4 linked regions of the Homo sapiens genome follow. The protein of the gene in region 3 purifies or fractionates together with the protein of the main gene of each other region. This does not show direct contact. Each region holds a gene or a part of one and is shown on either strand. Other genes may lie near its edges.

The links. The genes of interacting proteins can lie anywhere in the genome.
Region 1: the proteins of DEFB123 (region 3) and TMEM67 purify together in Homo sapiens (affinity purification with mass spectrometry; one large-scale study listed by BioGRID and IntAct). This does not show direct contact.
Region 2: the proteins of DEFB123 (region 3) and CACNA2D1 purify together in Homo sapiens (affinity purification with mass spectrometry; one large-scale study listed by BioGRID and IntAct). This does not show direct contact.
Region 4: the proteins of DEFB123 (region 3) and CTBS purify together in Homo sapiens (affinity purification with mass spectrometry; one large-scale study listed by BioGRID and IntAct). This does not show direct contact.

What each region holds. Positions count from the first base shown.
Region 1 is NC_000008.11:93,778,894-93,782,393, forward strand, and holds part of TMEM67 (meckelin isoform 1 precursor), read left to right. Parts: intron 1-1,699; coding exon 1,700-1,854; intron 1,855-1,980; coding exon 1,981-2,089; intron 2,090-2,764; coding exon 2,765-2,851; intron 2,852-3,500. UniProt on the Homo sapiens protein: Required for ciliary structure and function. Part of the tectonic-like complex which is required for tissue-specific ciliogenesis and may regulate ciliary membrane composition.
Region 2 is NC_000007.14:81,961,278-81,964,777, reverse strand, and holds part of CACNA2D1 (voltage-dependent calcium channel subunit alpha-2/delta-1 isoform 1 preproprotein), read left to right. Parts: intron 1-418; coding exon 419-571; intron 572-669; coding exon 670-722; intron 723-2,282; coding exon 2,283-2,338; intron 2,339-2,754; coding exon 2,755-2,884; intron 2,885-3,500. UniProt on the Homo sapiens protein: The alpha-2/delta subunit of voltage-dependent calcium channels regulates calcium current density and activation/inactivation kinetics of the calcium channel. Plays an important role in excitation-contraction coupling.
Region 3 is NC_000020.11:31,439,491-31,443,431, reverse strand, and holds the start of DEFB123 (beta-defensin 123 precursor), read right to left. Parts: upstream 2,801-3,941; 5' UTR 2,734-2,800; coding exon 2,676-2,733; intron 1-2,675. UniProt on the Homo sapiens protein: Has antibacterial activity.
Region 4 is NC_000001.11:84,564,441-84,567,940, forward strand, and holds part of CTBS (di-N-acetylchitobiase precursor), read right to left. Parts: intron 2,940-3,500; exon of another isoform or gene 1,573-2,939; coding exon 1,401-1,572; intron 1-1,400. UniProt on the Homo sapiens protein: Involved in the degradation of asparagine-linked glycoproteins. Hydrolyze of N-acetyl-beta-D-glucosamine (1-4)N-acetylglucosamine chitobiose core from the reducing end of the bond, it requires prior cleavage by glycosylasparaginase.

The sequences.
Region 1 (3,500 bases), on a different chromosome or scaffold from region 3:
TTGGCCTGCCTTGCTAGGTTGGGGAAGTTCTCCTGGATAATATCCTGAAGAGTGTCTTCCAACTTGGTTCCATTTTCCCCATCACTTTCAGGTACACCAATCAAACATAGATTTGGTCTTTTCACATAGTCCCATATTTCTTGGAGGCTTTGCTCATTTCTTTTTAGTCTTTTTTCTCTAACCTTGTCGTCTCGCTTTATTTCATTAATTTGATCTTCAATTACTGATACCCTTTCTTCCACTTGACCAAATCGGCTACTGAAGCTTGTGCATGCATCACATAGTTCTTGTGCCATGTCTTTTAGCTCCATCAGGTCATTTAAGGTCTTCTCTACACTGTTTATTCTAGTTAGCCATTTGTCTAATCTTTTTTCAAGGTTTTTAGCTTCCTTCCGACGGGTTCGAACATCCTCCTTTAGCTCAGAGAAGTTTGTTATTACCGACCTTCTGAAGCGTACTTCTGTCAGTTTGTCAAAGTCATTCTCCATCCAGCTTTGTTCTGTTGCTGGTGAGGAGCTGCATTCCTTTGGAAGAGAGGAGGCACTCTGGTTTTTAGAATTTTCAGCTTTTCTGCTCTGGTTTCTCCCCATCTTTATGGTTTTACCTACCTTTGGTCTTTGATGTTGGTGACCTACAGATGGGGTTTTGATGTGGATGGGGTTTTGATGTGGATGTCCTTTTTGTTGATGTTGATGCTATTCCTTTCTATTTGTTAGTTTTCCTTCTAACAGGTCCCTCAGCTGCAGGTCTGTTGGAGTTTGCTAGAGGTCCACTCCAGACGCTGTTTTCCTGGATATTACCAGCGGAGGTTGTAGAACAGCAAATATTGCTGCCTGATCCTTCCTCTGGAAGCTTCGTCCCAGAGGGGCGCCCACCTGTATGAGGTGTCTGTCGGCCCCTACTGGGAGGTGTCTCCCAGTTAGGCTACACAGGGTCAGGGATCCACTTGAGGAGGCAGTCTATCCATTCTCTGAGCTCAAACGCTGTGCTGGGAGAACCACTGCTCTCTTCAGAGCTGTCAGACAGGGATGTTTAACTCTGCAGAAGTTTCTGGTGCCTTTTGTTCAGCTATGCCCTGCTGCCAGAGGTGGAGTCAACAGAGGCAGCAGGCCTTGCTGAACTGCGGTGGGCTCCACCCAGTTGGAGCTTCCCCGGCTGCTTTGTTTTCCTACTCAAGCCTCAGCAATGGCAGACACCCCTCCCCCTGCCAGCCTGCTGCCTGGCAGGTTGATCTCAGCTGTGCTAGCAGTGAGCAAGGCTCTGTAGGCGTGGGACCCACCGAGCCAGGCGTGGGATGTAATCTGGTGTGCCGTTTGCTAAGACCATTGGAAAAGCGCAGTGTTTAGGTGGAGGTGTCCCATTTTTCCAGGTACAGTCTGTCACGGCTTCCCTTGGCTAGGAAAGGGAAATCCCCCAACCCCTTGCGCTTCCTGGGTGAGGTGATGCCCCACCCTGCTTCAGCTTGCCCTCCATGGGCTGCACCCACTGTCCAACCAGTCCCAATGAGATGAACCAGGTATCTCAGTTGGAAATGCAGAAATCACCTGCCTTCTGCGTTGATTATGCTGGGAGCTGCAGACCGGAGCTGTTCCTACTCGGCCATCTTGGAACAGACCTGCACAAAGTAAAATTTTTATATCAACTTTTGCATAGACTGTTCAGGTTCATGTTACTTTTCTTTGCCATTGTTCTGTTGTAGGTATATGCCAATCTAACATCTTGTCAAGCTCTTGGAAATATGTGTGTGATGAACATGAATTCTTACGACTTTGCCACATTTGATGCATGTGGACTATTTCAGTTTATCTTTGAAAATACTGCTGGACTGAGCACTGTTCATTCTATTTCATTTTGGTAAGGATATTTTGATTGATGAAATGTTATTTTGACTGAATTCAGTGCAGTTATTAATATATTCACAAATACTAATAATAAGAAATATTTATTCTCCATTATTAAAACAGTTGTAACTGTTTATAGGAGACAGAATCTTCCTTGGCTGTTTTATGGAGACCAGTTAGGATTAGCACCTCAAGTGCTCAGTTCTACCTCTCTTCCTACAAATTTCAGTTTTAAAGGAGAAAACCAGGTAAAAGTGTCTAATATCATTAGAGGATAACTACATTTTGATTTATAATTTTAAAAGGTAATAAAGTTACAATTCTTGCCTTTTTAGGTTGTTGGTACAAACTCAGTTACTAAACTAAATATAAATGTCAACAACTCATAAGAACTAAATAGTATAGAGTTTAGCTATCTTACTGAATATGTGGATACTTCTGGATTGTGTGGTTATGGCAAGAAGTTGTACTTGTAGGGTTGGGAAGAGCAGTTTTCATCACCAAATGCAAAAAATCTCTGTCCTGTTTTTTCCACACCTTAAAGAAGTGCTTCCAAAGATTGATTGGGGCTCTGTGACATTGCTCAGCACTTCACAGGGCCAAATTCCTACCTGTAACTTTTTGACCTTCCAGAATGAGGAGATACTATTCTCCCACACTGCCTCCTATTTAACAGGTTCAAAAGGAGGCTATCTGTCACTAGTGCTGCCTCTCAATTCTAGAATAATAATTTTCATGCAAAAAACCAGTCTAATTCTTTCAGGTCTATTTAGTCATAGAAATAGATTAATTGAACCTCAAAATAAAGATAATTGAATGTAATTTTTCAACAAAAAAGATCAGTCAACAATGAAAATTTCTTTATAGGATATTGTATTACTTTCAGAGTATTTGACCTGATTTTGCTCGTTTTCTTTAATCAGAATACAAAACTGAAGTTTGTTGCTGCTTCCTATGATATAAGAGGAAATTTTCTCAAGTGGCAAACTTTAGAAGGAGGTGTTTTACAGGTAAGCATGATTCTAGTTAAAGAATTAATAACATGCATTATTTTTGCCTGAGACAAAGCCAAGAGGAAAAGATTATTGTATGAATAAAGCATCAGTTACATACTACAGTTGATTTTTTTTCTGATGCTTTAAATTAGACTTTCTTAAGTTTTTTGTTTGTTTGTTTGTTTGTTTGTTTTTTCTTTTTTTTTTGAGATGGAGTCTCGCTTTCTTAACCAGGCTGGAGTGCAGTGGCGCGATCTCAGCTCACTACAAGCTCCGCCTTGCGGGTTCACGCCATTCTCCTGCTTCAGCTGGGAGCTGGAACTACAGGCGACTGCCACCACGTCCAGCTAATTTTTATGTACTTTTAGTAGAGACGGGATTTCACCATGTTAGCCAGGATGGTCTTGATCTCCTGACCTCGTGATCCGCCCTTCTTGGCCTCCCAAAGCGCTGGGATTGCAGGCATGAGCCACCATGCCTGGCTAAGTTTTATTTCTTTAAAGTTATGACTTTCATTTATAACAGATGTTCCCTTAACTTTTCATATCCTTGATACATTAAATAAGTATTATGTAGAGCATATATCCATGTTCGGGTTTGAGAACTCTTGAGTATAAGAATAGAAAACATTTGTGAGATTTATCTGTTGTATTATTTTGCTGCA
Region 2 (3,500 bases), on a different chromosome or scaffold from region 3:
AATTTCTGGTAGACAACACAGTATTATTAACTACAGTCCTCTGTTGTATGTTGAATCTCTAGGCTTATGCATTCTACATAACTGCTTCTTTGTACCCTTCCACTTATACCTCTCCATTCCCCGGCCCTGTTTTATTCATCTGGGAAGCATTTGATTGTGATTTAATGCTTAGTAATGTGTGTCCATTCTTTCCACAAATAAAATATCACACAGCCCCACTGAGTAATGAGAACACTTACTCTCATTTTAGTTTGTTCACAGTGTCATATACACGTTTCTCATTTGCTTTTGTTTTTAAGCTCCTCAGTTGTAGTTCAGTTTCTTTGTATTATTTCTTTTCACTGTAGTGGTGATTCCCGTGTTCATTTTTGGCTTACATTTTAAGTGCACGTTGCTTTATGATTTTTTTCTTCACCAGATTGGAAGATTTTTTGGAGAGATTGATCCCAGCTTGATGAGACACCTGGTTAATATATCAGTTTATGCTTTTAACAAATCTTATGATTATCAGTCAGTATGTGAGCCCGGTGCTGCACCAAAACAAGGAGCAGGACATCGCTCAGCATATGTGGTCAGTAATATCCACGGTCTAATCAATTCTCAAGGGGTACTCAAGTGTCCTCAGTATCAAGTAGACTACTGAAATGACCTTATTATTTTATTTTATAGCCATCAGTAGCAGACATATTACAAATTGGCTGGTGGGCCACTGCTGCTGCCTGGTAAGTCAAAATTTTAGTTTTATTGGTAATGAAAGAAAGAAGTTGTAAAATAAAAAAGCATCTGATGAAAATATGGATTTAGGGGATATTCAAATTTTTATTAAGGGAGTTAAGTTGTTTTCATTCTTTACATCACCTATTGGTAATATTTATAGTTTTTCCTAAGTGAACACTATAAAGTTACCATTATTCAGTTTCTCATATGAAAACAATGTTATGCGGATGTAAACTTCAGCCTCTTTAGAGTCTTCCTTCCTCTACATATCTATTGAAACTCTTTTCATTTGTATTAAATATTTATAAAAACATTACACTAATTTCTTTTAGGTGTATTGATCTGTAAGAAGTTACAATTTGTCTTTAATATCCCAGTTGGATGTCTACATGCATCAAATTCATGGCATGATGGCAACCTTCTACCTCTTTACTATTGATACAAGGACTAGTATTGTTTTAGGGGCATCAGGTTGCCGACATGGATCTAATTATTTCTTTTCACTGATGCTACCTTCCAAACCTCCCTCAACCCTCACCTGTAGACCCTACAACCTATGAAAATAAGACATTTAAATGGTCAATTGTGGCACTGTGGAAGGTCTGGAAGATCACATTTCTCATTGTTTAGTTGTAACTAAACCTCCTGTTACGTCTGGAATCCATGATCTCCCTCTTCCCTCTCTCCCTTCTAATCTTTTTTTTTGTATCATCACACTGTATTGTTAGCCCTATTCCATGTAGATTAATGTACAATATTCATTTGATGTTGAGGTTTGCCCAGCTAAAATTAAGTGACTATATCATTAAAGCAGCAAAAAAGATTTTAAAATTTTGAGAGTTTTTAAAAGATTTAGAAAATTCTGTTTTATTCTGAAAAATGGTATTTTCTGATGTGATTTTATATATTAATTTCAGTAGGCTTTTAAAATTTCATCATGACCCTGAAATACTTGGCTTTATCCTATATCCCCTCCCACCCCCACTTTTTTTTAAACTAAATTCAGTTCTAGAAATTTGGCTCAGTTGTCAGTTACTGTAAAACTGAAATGTGCTGTATCTCTCTAATATGTATATTTTGTTTCATGAAAGTTACATTACATATTTACAAATATATTCTATATTACAAAGTAAATAGTTAACAAATTCAAACCCATGGTATAAACAGCATTGTTTCTTTGTTGGGGGCGGGGGAAACCCAAAAAACAAATGGTTTTAAAAACTAAAATAAGGAGACGTAATGAATGTGAAAACCTACGCGCTGAAACAGACATTCTCCCTCTTAGAGTGAACTCTTCTGCTTGATAACATTGCCTGTTAGGTTTCTTCACACATTGTGTCCCACTTGATCCTGAACAAGATCTGAACACTTCTGATTTCATGACTTCTTTTACACATTACAAAAAGGTTACAATGTGTTATATAATTTTGAAAATACTTAAATAAAAACACTCCAAGACTTTCTTTCCCAAAAAGATAAAGGGAAACAGTATTTATGTGTATGGGTACATGTAAAAACACATTTTTTCCCTAGATGTTTATTTTTTTTTTATTTGAAAAATTCAGGTCTATTCTACAGCAGTTTCTCTTGAGTTTGACCTTTCCACGACTCCTTGAGGCAGGTATGTAAATGCTCAGACCTTGTCATTGCCATAACAATAAAAATTTTCTTTTGGGATGTGCTTGAAGTTCAACAAATTCAGAGAATATTTGTGTGAAAGAGAAAACAGGTCACCCATCTCATAATTTTAGAGCTAGAAACTTTTTGTCCAACCTTTCCTAATGTTTTAGAAATTACCTAGGTCACACGGGCCTGATCTCATAGCCATCTTGTATTTGAATTCATTTATTCTCTTGATATTTATCAGGCATCTATTACGGGCTGCCACGATATTACACAGCAGTAAACAAGCCAGTCGAGGGGTCCTGGTCTTATACGTTTATTTTGCTCTGTGAGAAGTGAAGACTCGAGGGGAGTGACTACAGAGACCCCTCCTAATGGTGTTCTTTGTTTTTACACCGTCCCCCGCCACCCAAGTTGAGATGGAGGATGATGACTTCACGGCCTCCCTGTCCAAGCAGAGCTGCATTACTGAACAAACCCAGTATTTCTTCGATAACGACAGTAAATCATTCAGTGGTGTATTAGACTGTGGAAACTGTTCCAGGTAATTTATTTATTTCAGGAGTAGTCCTATTTCATTAAGAAATTGTATATACTGTTATAATCATTAAGAAATTGTATATACTGTTATAATCATTACAGAAAAAACTGAAAATTGTGTTGGAGTCAGAGATGTGAGTAATTGTTTTAAGCTGAAAATGTCAGCAATCTTTAGTTTCTCTGTAGACTTTTAAAATTTGTAATTTTTAAAATTCTAACTTTGATAAGCTGTTATTTCTTCAACTATAATAATTACATGATCAAGATAATTCCTTTCTCTTTAGGCAGAACATAGAGAAATTTGATTATATTTTAACTTTTTTTCCTAAAATAACCCATATTAAAAATTTCTAATATAAAGTTATTAAATATATTAGTAATTTAAATAATTCTAAGCCAAATATTATTTATTTTTCTATATAGTAACTAAACAGATTTACAAAAAAAAAGTCTTGTTTTGTTTTGTTTTTACTTCTAGTCTTCTCTGACTTGAAGAACTGAATGTTATCTTTATTTGAATTTGAAGGAACTGGGAAAAATACAGTTTTTTTAGGTCATGGTTAATGTTAGTCAGTATCCATAAAATATCTTTTAAAAAGAGATGGAGAATTTAATTTTGT
Region 3 (3,941 bases):
GTGCTACCTGAAGGGGGATTAGAAATGGCTAAGGGAAGTGGCTGAGCATCACTGTCAGCTCTCTGTTGAATAAAATAGACCCAGAAGGTCCCCAGGTTCCCTTGTCTCTGGCTGAGATAGGAAAACCAGTGAGGGACCTGCCAAGAGTACACCCCTAGTGCAGAAGGCAGTAAGGGAGGGTGTGAACAGCCTTAACTTGGGGACCAGATGGAAGATCTGGCTGAGATGAAGGGTCGAGTCAGTGGGGACCCCAAAAGGGCTGAGAGATTTCATCAGTCATGAAATCCAGTAGTAAGTGCTAGCAGGACGCTACTAACCACATCCAACGAGGGTCGTGATCCCAGAAGTCAGTAAGGGTCCAGCACAGGACCTGACCCCACCTCCTTATGTTCCTATCCCAGGACCCTTGCACTTGCTGTTTTCCCCAGCTTGAATTTCCTTCCCTCCATAGCCACATGCTCACACCGGTTGTTCCCTCAGGTCACAGTGAGACATTCCATGAACAACCCCTTAAAAATGGCAAAGACCGGGCATGGTGGCTCAAGCCTGTAATCCCAGCACTTTGGGAGGCTGAGGCAAGCAGATTGCTTGAGGTCAGGGATTCAAGACCAGCCTGGGCAACATGGCCAAACCGTATCCTACTAAAAATACAAAAATTTGCCAGGCGTGGTTGCAGGCGCCTGTAATCCCAGTTACTTAGGAGGCTGAGGCATGAAAACTGCTTGAATCCGGGAGGTGGAGGTTGCAGTGAGCTAAGATCGTGCCTCTACACTCCAGCACTCCAGCCTGGGTGACAGAGCAAGACCCTGTCTCCAAAAAAAAAAAAAAAAAAAAAGCAAATGACCTTCCCCTTCCCCTGGTGTTCACTATTTCCTTTCCTGCCTATTCTGCTCACTGTACTCATTATCTGACATACCATATGTTTCATTTATTTTTCAAATTCTTTGGGTCCTCCAGTAGAAGGTAAGCTCCAAGAGGACAGAGATTTTGCTTATCTTGTTTTGTTCCCAGTTCTACCTCTAGCACCCATCACAGTGCTTGGAACAAGAAATCCATTCAACTGTATTTACTGAATGAAGCAATTAATTATTTGATGACATATCAAGTTACTTTTCCCTGTAACCAGATACTATCCCAGGAAAGAGAAAGGGTGATGGAAGAAAGAGACATGCTGAAAGACTCAACACTTATTCAAAAGAGATTGAATTAGCTTAGAAATCATTTTAAAACAGAAAAGACAAATATTGAACTGCTGAGTTCAGGCCCAGCCCCTATGTGCCTTGTCACCCTGGGTTGTAAGTGCTATTTAACTGTCTCCCCTAGTTTGCTCCCCTGGTGCCATGTCATTTATCTCTGTAGTCCTGCTCCTCCCACCACTAACTCCCACAGTCAGGATGGAAGTTCCTGGGAAAGTTTGGTGAGTTAGAGAAAATAGAGAAGCCATATTTCTTTTGCAGACCAAAATTTCAGTGTGTTCAATGTTGTTCCCTCAACCTGATATTATTACACACTTGATGTTATTGCAGTTTGAGAAATGAGGAAATTGATACTCTGAGCAGCTGAGCTTCTTGTTGGGGCTCACAGAGTCAGAAAATGATGGGGCAGGTTTTAACCCGGGGTCTGGGCTTTCCTCCCTACTCCAGGTGAGTGGTGTTTTAGGGCCTCAGGAAGACACAAGGACGGAGGTCAGCTTGTTTAGGAAATTCACACGTTTCTGACTCTGTAGAAAGGTTAGCCGACAGCCTTAGGGTGGGTGGAAACTTCTGCCAGATGAGCAGGAAGGGATAGGTGGCTCATGCTGGAATTGGTGGGTGGTAGGTCTGACCAGGGTCTTTCTCTGTTTAAACCTTCCCATGGGTCCCTCACCTGGCATTTGAGGCCCACTGAGACCTGGAGCTTGAATGCTTCCTCAGCTTTACCCCCGCCTCTCTCCTAACCCACCCCTCCATGTTATGCAGGTCCCCGACACTCCCATGCTCTCTCCCGCATCCAACCTTTGCATAGGCTGACCTCTCTGCCTGGGACACCCTTCTGCTTTCCCCTCTCCTTCCTTTTCTATTTTCGACTCACTTTTTAGGACTCAGGATATCCCTCCAGGAGGACTCTCCTTTCCCTCAGCCTGGGCTGGACCATGTGTACCCAGCCCCCTGGTTTCCCACTGCCACAGCCGTGTCACCCTGGGTTATAAATGCTATTTAACTGTCTCCTCCAGTTAGTTCCCCTGGCACCATGTCATTTATCTCCGTGGTCCTAGCTTCCAGCGCAGAGTCTGGCACAGAGACAGCTAAGTACAAATGAGCTTTCTCTCCCATTAAGGTAGCTGTGATCTTCACAAAGCTTCGTTCATTCTGGGGACTATTTTGCAAAAGGGCCATACCTGCCTCTCCTCTTTCCTGCTTCTCTTGCTCACCCCTCCCACTCCTCCTCACACACTAGGCCACCCCCACATGCTCCCTGGAGCTGGGCAGGAAGAGGAGGGATGGAGCCGCTGAGAGAGCAGCTCTGGATGTTGTAGTTGTCATCTATCAGCTGGCACCTGCTGCTGGTGAGGCGCCTCCTGCCTCCTATACGTGGTGCTAGATGACAACCTGCAGCCCATCCTTCTAGCCCTTGGGATTCTCTGACCAGGCCTTAGTCTCTAAGCCCTGCCCCTTCCTTAAGGAGGTTCAGGTTACCTGGAGTCAGCTGGGATAAGAGCAGCAGCACAGTCAAAGTCAGCAAAAGGAGCTTCATGGCTAAGGCAGCCCAAAATGAAGCTGCAAGTCCGATGCCACGGCTGAGCTAATGGGAGAAGGAGAGTGCCTGGCCTGTGGCTCGCACTCCCTCAGCTGCCCACGGGTACAGCCCTCACACTCTGACTGGACACCCCTCCCTTTGTCATTTAGGTCAGCAGGGAGAGGACAGCCAACAAGGTCCAGGGCCCAAGACTTAATATACTACCCGTTCCTTCCACCCAGCTCCAAACTGCCTGAACCCAGTGACCAGCAGGAGGCGCCACAAACACCGGCTCCGGAAGGTCAGGGAAGACGGCAGAGTTTTGAAGAATAAATACAAAGCAACAGGTAGATGAGCTGAAATGGGGTTCCAGGTGGAGGAATGTCTGTACAAAGGCTCATGTTGGTGTTGAAAATGAGAAATATGACATAACCAGAGCAAAAACTGAGAGGAAAACGGCAGAAAGAGATGAAGCTCCGAGCACCAGCCTGTCTGTCACAGCCCCCTGCTGGGTTCTAACATGCGGTGGCCCTCCCCCTAGGGTCATCCTTCCGCTTCCTCAGAGATCTGAGAACCAACCACTCAGAATCCTTCTTCTGAACTCGGGTTTTGAAAACTCATTCTTGGCCGGGCACGGTGGCTCACGCCTGTAATCCCAGCAGTTTGGGAGGCCAAGGTGGGTGGATCACTTGAGGTCAGGAGTTCGAGACCAGCCTGGCCAACATGGTGAAACCCCATCTCTACTACAAATACAAAAAGTAGCCAGGTGTGGTGGTGCATGCCTATAATCCCAGCTACTTGGGAGGCTGAGGCAAGATAATCGCTTGAACCTGGGGAGGCTGTGGTGAGCCGAGATCGCGCCACTGCACTCCCGACTGGGCGACAGAGCAAGACTCTGTCTCAGAAAAGAAAAGAAAAGGCATCTCTTTCCTTTAGTTCCCTCAGCCCTCGGGTGGTAGCTGCATCCTGTAGTTACTGTTTCTCTGACTGGACCCTGCTTGAAACAGATGTCAAGGGTATAATAGCATACAGAGGGATTACAAGGGAAAAACAACAACAACAACAACAACAGTGAAAGCCATTTCTGTAGGGGCAGAAAACAGTCAATGGGGTTGAAAACTGAAAGGTAAGTGAAACAGTGAGGTCAGCAAGTGTAAATAATTCTTTCTAAAACCCTTACAATGAAGAGAAGAAGAGACACTGGCTAGGAAGGGACTCAGTGGAAA
Region 4 (3,500 bases), on a different chromosome or scaffold from region 3:
TATTACTTTTTAGAGCCTTTAATGTTATTATGTACTATTAAATAACCAAAAATGGGGTGGGGTATGTATCAGTTCCCAAACATATTGGTTTATTTAGTTTGGTTGTTGATTTATTTATGATACAAAGTATCCCTATGTTGCTCAGGCTGGCTTGAACTTCGGCCTCATGTGATCTTCCCACCTCAGCCTCCCAAGGCTTGAACCTTTTATTGATAGAACATAATTATAATGTCTTGCCTGAAACACAGTTTGGGAACCCTCAATTAATAATTACTTCGTAATTTTAACAGAATAAGTTATTTTTCAACTTTAAATAGGTATGTGGCTAGGCACAATGGCTCATGCCTGTAATTGAAGCTCTCTGGGAGGCTGAGGTGGGAGGATCACTTGCGGCCAGCCTGGGCAACATAGTATGACTCCATCTCCTTAAAAAAAAAATCTTTTTTAAATTAGCTGGGCATGGTGGTGCATGCCTGTATACCCAGCTACTCAGGGGGCTGAGGTTGGGGGATCACTTAAGCCCAGGAGGTCGAGGTTACAGTGGGCTATCATAGTGCCACTGCACTCCAGCCTGGGCAACAAAGCAAGACTCTGTCTCAGAAAAAGAAAAAAATGAAAATATTAGCTGGGCATGGTGGCATGCACCCGTAGTCCCAGCTACTCAGGAGGCTAAGGCTGAGCTTGTGAGGTTGAGGCTGCAGTGAGCCCTGATCGTGCCACTGCACTCCAGCCTGGGTGATGGAGTGAGACCCTGCTCAAAAAAATAAAAATTAAAAAAAAAAACAAAAGAACAAGCAATCTTTTATTTAGTTGACTGATGGAATACAAACCAATCCAAACTTTGAAGAGGATAATGCAAAGCCTACATCAAATGAATGACAGGTCAAAAGTACTCAAATTCTAATAGGAATATAATTTTTAATTTATCACAGATACTAAAAGAAGTTAATGCCTATCCTATTAATCATGCAATGAAGGTGCCCAACCATATCTATCTTTGCTATTATTTAACACTGGTTATTTCAACAAAAATATCCTGTCAAATTCTAGATAAGCATGTGATTTCATGACAAGAATATCAGACCAGAAATGAGAATACCTGATTAAGCCCCAACTATATAATACTTAATAGTTATGCAATCATGAGCAGTTAATTCTTTTTATCTCATCTAGAAATATACCTATACCACAAGATTGTTGGAAGAATTAAGTGAAAATCAAAACTTTAAAACTTTTTGTAAACTTTAAAGCTTTCAATTAAGTGATTTTTACATGTTTGAAGCAAGCCTTACAATTGAAAAACGTATACATATAACTTAGAAATACTAAAAACATCTTAATATTTTAATTTATAGAATATTATTAATATTATTAATAAATGACCATGTTTAGAGTCTTACCAGTTAATGTCTGATTATAGGGAGCATTGGCTGCTGCAATACATTCTGACCAGATCTGACTTTGTTCATCATAAGACATCACAAAGAGGAAGTCACAAGCATCTGCGATTCCAGTATAATTATAGCATCTTCTGTCTATGTTCTTTGGAGACCAAGCTACATCAAAGGTTACCTGTGGAAAAAAATCTTACTATTTTATGTAATATGATCACGTGTGCATATTACGTCAGATTTTTAAAATTATATATATTTTTTACCTTATACTACACAAGGAAAAGGAACTGCTTACAGTATATGAATGTAGGGTTTGACACACATAGAACTTGAACCATTCTAAGAAATATTTTTTGCTTACACTTGACTGAGTCAGACATATATTTGGACATACAATGACCAGGAGCAAGACACTATATAGAAGATGGCCTTCAAACTCAAAATGTCTTCAAACGCTAGGCTGGTACCTCAGCTGATTAAAAGAAGCAGGTATAATGACAACAGGGTATGGTGATGCCCCTGAGCAACTAGAGAGTAAAGGCACACTAAAAGAATTCAAATACAAAAGTTTTTAAAATATTGTGCAGGTTAAATATGTCACCTGTTGGCACAACCTGACTGGGTTGGGAGTTTCAGCCTGATTCACAATCACCTTATATGGTAGATTTGGCCCAATATTACAGTTAAGACAATAGTGGTGTCTTACGGCCTACAGGTATAGATTAATCAAGTCAAAATGTTGAATAAATCATTTAAATGATCTTATTTTACGGAAATATTCAAATAAATGTTGAGTATTATCTTTCTTTTTTGGGGGGGATGGAGTCTTGCTCTGTCACCCAGGGTGGAGTGCAGTGGCGCAATCTCAGCTCACTGCAACCTCTGCCTCCTGGGTTCAAGTGATTCTCCTGCCTCAGCCTCCCACATAGCTGGGATTACAGGCATGCGCCACCACGCCCAGCTAATTTTTTTGTATTTTTAGTAGAGACAGGGTTTTGCCATGTTGCCCAGGCTGGTCTCAAACTCCTGACCTCAGCTGATCTGCCGATCTCAGCCTCCCAAAGTGCTTACAGGCGTGAGCCACCACACCCAGCCTTATCTTTCATTTTGAATAGTGAGCCAGCCTTCAACAAGAATGTGTCTCTTTATGTTTATTGCCTTAACCAAATATTAATTAGCCTTATTTTATACATGTACAAATGTTCTAAAACTTCATTAAAGGTTGTTTTCCCCCCTTAATTAGGCACTCAATAAACACTGATTATTTTAAAAACTGAGATACTTTAGGTAACATTTTTATACTTTGAACAATTTATTCTAGCAAAACTCTTTTTAGGACTTCTTCAAAGTTCCCTTTATAATTCCGTGAATATTAGCACTTTATAATTATAAGCTTTGCTCAGTAGTTTTCCAACAAAATAAGTTATGAAATAAAATTATTACATATTTGTTCCTATTTTATCACTGCCTCTTATTACAAAATGAGAGGTATATTATAGTAATAGAGAAAAATAAATGACTACCTCTAAGCAAGTAAATTTCCAATCCATTTTGTAAGAGTGTTTTCACCAGGATTTTCTCTCACAGTTAATCTCATATTTTTGAGATGGTACTATTATTATATTAGACAAGAAAGCAAAAGACTTGGGTGCTAGTGTCAGCTATCTTATAGTTAGGTCTGTATCACTGCTAAGTCAATTAAAGCATCTGAATTTTTCCCATCTATAAAAATGAGGGTGTAGAAAGAACTCTTCAAGGCATTTATTTGTAGCTCTTTAATTCTGTGACCACAATTCTGTAAACCAAAGTTATTATCTTATTCCCAAAACTCATTCCCCCCTCTAGATTATCTAGTCATTTTTTGTTGGTTACCAGTTTAAAAACCTTGGGGCCATTTTCTGATTCTTTCTTCCCTTACTTCCAAAATCTAACCTCACGTCTCCCTTTGGGTGGCATCTCACAGTTGTTCTGCCCCTTCCTTTCCATTAATTAATTCATTTAATATGTATTTATTGTACACCTGCTGATTTAGGATTATGTCATCATCCAAATCCAAACTAAATCCCTTGATACTGTATTGTTCAGTTAGCAGTCCTTACTCATCTT